Homo sapiens: one gene and its partner. The protein of the gene in region 2 purifies or fractionates together with the protein of the main gene of each other region. This does not show direct contact. Each region holds a gene or a part of one and is shown on either strand. Other genes may lie near its edges.

Evidence for each region.
Region 1: the proteins of C21orf58 (region 2) and FAM199X purify together in Homo sapiens (affinity purification with mass spectrometry; one large-scale study listed by BioGRID and IntAct). This does not show direct contact.

The regions. Positions count from the first base shown.
Region 1 is NC_000023.11:104,193,331-104,196,630, reverse strand, and holds the end of FAM199X (protein FAM199X), read right to left. Parts: 3' UTR 729-3,300; downstream 1-728.
Region 2 is NC_000021.9:46,300,335-46,303,780, forward strand, and holds the end of C21orf58 (uncharacterized protein C21orf58), read right to left. Parts: intron 2,243-3,446; coding exon 2,151-2,242; intron 1,821-2,150; coding exon 1,665-1,820; 3' UTR 796-1,664; downstream 1-795.

The DNA of each region.
Region 1 (3,300 bases), on a different chromosome or scaffold from region 2:
AAATACAGGCTGGGTACAGTGGCTCACACCTATAATCCCAGAACTTTGGGAGGCCAAAGCAGGAGGATTGCTTGAGCCCAGGAGTTCGAGACCAGCCTAGACAAAAAACATTTTTTGTAGAGACCTTATCTCTACAAAAAATTGAAAAATTAGCTGAGTGTGGTGACATGTGCCCGTGGTCCTAGCTACTTCGGAGGCTGAGGTGGGAGGACCGCTTGAGCCTGGGAGGTTAAAGCTGTTGTGGGTTATGATCACACCACTGCATACCAGCCTGAGTGACAGAGCGAGGCCCTGTCTCAAAAAAAAGAAAAAGTTTAATCTCCCTCTCACACCAATCACCTACAACAGTTAACTGTGGGCAGCAGTTTTTTAGCCACTAATTACTGTTCACTGATAAAATGATGATAATGATCACTACATAAACCAGCAAATCTCTAGAGCAGCACTGTCCAACAGAACTTTCTGTGATGATGGAAATGTTCTACATCTCATGCTTTTCAATACAGTAAATAGCCTGTAGCCACATGGTAGCTACTGGATACTTGAAGAATTGCTAAGGAGACTAAAGAACTACATTTTAAATTTTACTTAACTTTAATTCATTTAAATAGACATATGTGGCTAGTGACTACCATAATGGATAGTACATTATGCACTGCCCATTATGGTAGTCACTAGCCACATATGGAGCTCTAGAGTACCTAAGAGAAGAAACACACACACGCACATTTCACTTAGTATCTAACTCACATTTATTAAAAATTGAAGATTACAGAAAAGCATAAGATTGGCATCATTAAACAAGCTTAATTAACTTACCTTTGACTAATAAATGAAAATATTTAATAACACTAAAGGAATTTTGAGAATAAGTTCTATTCCAACCTTAGAAATTAAAAATAAAAGCAAAGCAGCTATTCTCCAAAGGAGAAAGCAACCACAGATCTCCCTCTAGTGGCAAAAGATAAAGTTGCTGCTGAAAAGCTGAATTGCTCCTCCATACATAGAACTGCTCAGACATTTCTTCTATAAAATTCTAACTTAAGATTCTAAATCAATATATAAGGAAAATAGATCTATTTTTTGTCAAAAAAAATTAGACCTACTGCCCAGTAATAGCATGGATTAAAAAAATTAGACAATTTTCACTTACTATGAATGCTAATCTCTCTAGAAATCTGCTCTCTCTAGAAATCTGATCTGTCCAGAAAAAAAAATAAGTTTTGCCAATGACATTTGGGTATCTGGGGCTTTCACCAAATAAAAGTTTATAAAGCCATAACCAAACTGTGAGAAACAGAAAAGGGAGCAGTTCTCCTCTGTTGGTAAATATTCTGGGATAGAGCATGAAAGGAGCTGACTCAGAAGTATAAAGTAGTAAGCAGCAGTGAGTGGGCTGTGTAACAACTCAGGGTACATCAAAAGAAATAATATATTATAAGAGTTCTTAACCAAAACAACACTTTTCATTCTGGTATTCAGTTTCAAAAGACAGCTCTGCCACATTGCCAGTTTTAATTACAACCATACACACTCATTTAGATTTCACTACTGAACTACTTTCAAGTACAAGAAGGAACTCAAAATAGAAACGACTTATGATACAACTATTGTTATTCCCTCACAGCTTCAGGGAAAACAGGCTTTATATACACTGTAGTAAGTACAGAATGTACAGAAGACAGTTATATATACAAAAGTGCATTAATATAGTAATATATTTAGCAGTAATACAGGAAAAAAAAATCCTGGTTAACAATCTGATACATTACAGTATTTAAAACTACTTGAAGATTCTCCAAACCAGTCAACTTCCTACTTGCTTTGGTTATGATATTGCTGCTACATAACTAATCTTTGAAACTAAAAAGCAAAAACAAAAACCCACAATTTGAAATTTTTACCCATATGTGAATTGTTTTGCATATACTTGTTTACCATTAATAGCCTTTGACAATAGTCCTTAAATTCCCAACACAAAGGTTCAGAATAGATAATACTTGTTAAGTGAGAGTACTCAAATAGGAAATTAAATGGATCCACTACAGGAACAGACATTATCTGCTCCATTGTTAAAAGCCTCAGCTAGATAACCTAACCACAAATGTCAATTTCAGTCTCAGTTTAAATCCAATAGGTCAGCTACTGTTAAAAGAGCCAGCAGCTCCACAAAACTAGTCATGGCTTCAGGCCACTGTTCCTTAGAACAATTTAGAATATTAAGTGTTAACTTGTTATTTATACATATAGTCTACAACTACCTTTACATAGTCAAATGTATATGCATAATTAGAGCAAGTCTCCCCTTTTTCACCCCCATCCCTCACCACAAAAATGAACACAGATTTCCACAGGTTTTGTTGGACACAAAGATGTAACAAAGAAATGTGACAATTAAAAAAAGTACTACATACAGAATTTAGAGAAGATCAAACAAGCTTTTCTGAGTTCGGTATGAGTGTCAAATTAAAATTTAATTTGCCATTATATGCTCTAGGTTAAAACAGTAATTACCTTAATTTAAAAAATAACTAGAGGGAGAGCCAAAAAGAAATAATTTTAATGTTAAAAAAATAAGAAAATAAAATTTCAGTGAGTCAACTCAGATCTTCAGCAGTACCATTCAACTTCCTTACTCTTAATGGCCAGTTAGAAGAATTTTCAGAATTCCTTCTAAGGCTTCTGGAATAAGTAACTTATTTTCCAAAGAAATAAGACCTAAGCATTATAAGTAGTTATGTTCCGGATACTATGCTAACAAAGATGCCTAGCTTAAAATATCTCAGTTTTTATTCACTTAGCATAATTTTATTTTTAAGACAAAGTTTATCTTACTTTATCAGACTTAAAATGAATCCAAAGTTACCACAGTACATATGTATACAAATACTTATTTCCTAACTAACAGTCCTTTCAGAATTAAATTTACTTCTAGTTCAGACATGCTGAATGAGTCAGTGCCCTCAACATCAACACTATTATTTGAATGCAACTGGGGATTTTCCTATTAATTGTCCCAAACTATAAACGGACTGCGAGTACCCTTCAATTCCAAACAAATGTTTTTCCTTGAAGACAGAAGTGCTAAAAGTTCATTTGTTAAAGGAAAGAAGAGGAGTGTGTTCCAGCTATTACACAAATGAGTTCAAAGAATTCCTAGAGAATCAACTTGCTACATAATCTCTGTCCTTGAAGTGCTTTTGCCTATACCTTGAAAATTATCTTTCTAGATATTAAAAGTGATCTGGTTTGAAGAAGTATCCTGGCATATGATCTTTTTCAGAGGGAAAAAAATACATT
Region 2 (3,446 bases):
GCAGGAGAATGGCATGAACCTGGGAGGCGGAGCTTGCAGTGAGCCGAGATCGCTCCATTGCACTCCAGCCTGGGCGACAAGAGCAAAACTCTGTCTCAAAAAAAAACATTTTTAATAGAAAGAAAGAAATGCCATGCTGGAAAGTCACCTTGAAAAGAGGAAATGGAGTCTGAGCTTTGGTTTGAGCTTTTAACGAGAGCACAGAGTCTCTGGAATCACCTTCAAGAGGCACGAAAAGATGGTTCTGAGAGAAGTGAGTGTTACTGCCAGTAGCTGCGCTGGGCCCTTCGGTGTTCACACCTGCCCGTCCATGTCAGCACCAGGTGGCTGTCCCTGGGGAGCTCTGCAGCTCAGTGGCAACTCTCTGGTCATCCTGTCTCCTACCTGCAAACTTTCAAAGATGGAAGCACTGGGACAGGGTTCCTCCTTGTGCGGAACTTCAGGAATGAAAGAATCTGTCCTAATAGGGGGTGAATGAAAGTTTATGTATACTACTTAAAAATATGTAAACAACATTAAAAGAGCAAAGAAACATAATTGCACCCAAAAAAAAAAGTAACAAAAAGTAAAGAAAAGAAATAGTCAAGGTAGCCTGTCCACATGGTAAGAAACCCCACAGCACAGAAGGAAACTGAACTGAGGGGAGTGAGCCGCCCTTCCACTGCCCAGCACTCACCTTTGCTTTACAGGAACAAGAGCTGTGCAAACCAGCATGTAGAGATTTCTGCATTTATAGCATTAGCACTCTCCCTTTTTTTTTTTTATTAACTCAAAAGGGATCACGTCATACACAGCTTGCTTCTTTCACTTTTTTATTTTATTTTTGAGACAGGGGCCTGCTCTGTGGTCCAGGCTATAGTGCAGTGGTTCCATCAGAGCTCACTGCAGCTTCTAACTCCTGGGCTCAAGCAATCCTCCCACCTCAGCCCCCAGAGCTGCTGAGATAACAGGCGCATATCACCACACCTGGCTAGTTTTTTAAATTTATTTTTTGTAGAGACGGGGTCTTGCTATGTGACCCAGGCTGGTCTCGAATTCCTGAGCTCAAGTGATCCTCCTGCCTCAGCCTCTTAAAGTGCTGGGATTACAGGCATGAGCCATGCACCCCTACTTCTTTAGTGGGAGTCTGTGCCACAGCTGTGGACACAGGTGTCCCTAGTTATTAAATTAGACTTTGTGGTATTTTCCCCATCAGGATGTTCACACTTCCATGTGGCTAAAGCTATTGATCTTTTCTGTTCTGGCTCCTGAGCTGAGATTTTCTTAAACTCTTTCTGGATGAAATCTTTATTTCATCAGGCTGGTGGCGTCCACGGCCTCAACTTTACCTCCGTGATGGAAGAGGGGGATCTGAGGCTCCCAGGTGGGCCGGCGCCGCCCTACAGGAAAGGAGGGGTCCCTGGGAGGGGCTGTTGCCCTGGTGGGGTTCACAGGCCCCTCACTGCAGGGGACCCGGAGCAAGGGATGCCCCCTGGAATGGCCCCGTGACCAGAAAGCGAGCCTGCCCAGCTTCCCCAGGAGGAGCCTGCAGTCCACACTCGCGTAGCCACTCCGGGTGGTGGCAGGGTCTCTCCCTGCTCCCTTCCATAGTCCCGCCACAGCCCACAGCCCTGAGGAAGCCTGGGGGTGGAGGGTGCCCCGGCCAGGGTCTCTGTGACTCACACTCAGGGTGGGCCAGGCGTCCACAGGCTGGGGGCGGGCTGGAGGACAGTGGCAGCCCCAGGTGGCCACACAGCATGGTGGTGGTGGTGGTGGTGGTGCACGGCAGGCAGCCTTGGCCTGGCAGCTCGTGGGACCCTCGGGGGCACATGTGGCGGGTCCTGCCACAGACGCACCTGCTGCTTAGGACGCAGCCCAGGCTGCTCCCCACCTCCACTCCCGCCCTGTTCCTAACTGGGGCTGGATCCCATGTGATAGGCAGGATGGCAGGGTCTAAGCATCCTCCCAGAGGAGGCTCCTCCCCCGCCCCAAATTGTGCAACCCATTCCTCATCTGGGCTGGGACTCGATGGGGATGGGGGCTTCACAGCCAGACTGTAGACCTGAGCCAGGAATGCCCTTTCAGAGCTACACAGATGCAGAAATTTCCAGAAGAAAAACCACCCAGGCCCTGTTTCCTTGGCCTAGGGTTCTGCTGGGGGCTAAGCCTACCTGCAGGGCTGGGGGCAGGGCCTTGAGCATCCAGTTCTGCAGGACCAACTGGTGCACCTGTGCGTTCTGCAGCAGCAGCAGCTCCACCATGTCTGCAGGGAAGAAGCAGGGGGACCCTGAATAAAGTTTCCGTTTTTCCTATTTGTTAAAGTGATAGAGCATTATAGGACCAGAGAACAGGTGTGTCTGTACACTGTGCAGGTCCCCGGGGCAGGCTCTGAGTCCGTCTGCACACGGTGCGGGTCCCCGGGGCGCGCCCTGAGCCCGTCTGCACACGGTGCGGGTCCCCGGGGCGCGCCCTGAGCCCGTCTGCACACGGTGCGGGTCCCCGGGGCGCGCCCTGAGCCCGTCTGCACACGGTGCGGGTCCCCGGGGCGCGCCCTGAGCCCGTCTGCACACGGTGCGGGTCCCCGGGGCGCGCCCTGAGCCCGTCTGCACACGGTGCGGGTCCCCGGGGCGCGCCCTGAGCCCGTCTGTACACGGTGCGGGTCCCCGGGGCGCGCCCTGAGTCTCTACTAAAAATACAAAAATTAGCCAGGCGTGGTGGTTCAAGCCTGTAATCCCAGCTCCTTGGGAGGCTGAGGCATGAGAATCGCTTGAACTCAAGAGGCAGAGCTTGCGGTGAGCCAAGATCGTGCCACTGTACTCCAGCCTGGGCAACCAGGGCGAAACTCCGTCTCAAGAAAAAAAAAAAATTAAAACATCTAAGCCAGTTGTAGTGGTGCATGCCTGTAGTCCCAGCTACTCAGGAGGCTGAGGCAGGAGGATCACTTGAGCCCAGGAGTTCGAGGCTGTAGTGAGCCATGATCATGCCCCTGCACTCTAGCCTGGGTAACAGAGCAAGATACTATCTCCCCAGAAAATAAATAATAAAATATCTGTTCATCTACAGACACCATGAAGAGAGTGAAAAGGCAACCACAAGAAGGATGGAACACTCAAAATGCACATATCAAAAAAGGGCTCATTACAGAAATTATAAAGAATCCCTAGAAACCAATAAGGGAGGCAGGCAACCTGAAAGAAAAATGGGCAAATTACTTAAATGGACACTTTACAAAAAAGGATATTCAAGTAGCCAATAAGGCCAGGCACGGTGGCTCATGCCTGTGATGCTCGCACTTTGGGAGACCGAGACAGGAGAAGTCCTTGAGACCAGGAGCTGACACCAGTCATAGCAAGACCTCATCTCTACACACACACACACACACACACACACACAAAATATATATATATATATATATATATATATATATATATATTTTTTTTTTTTTTTTTTTTTTTGGAGACAGAGTC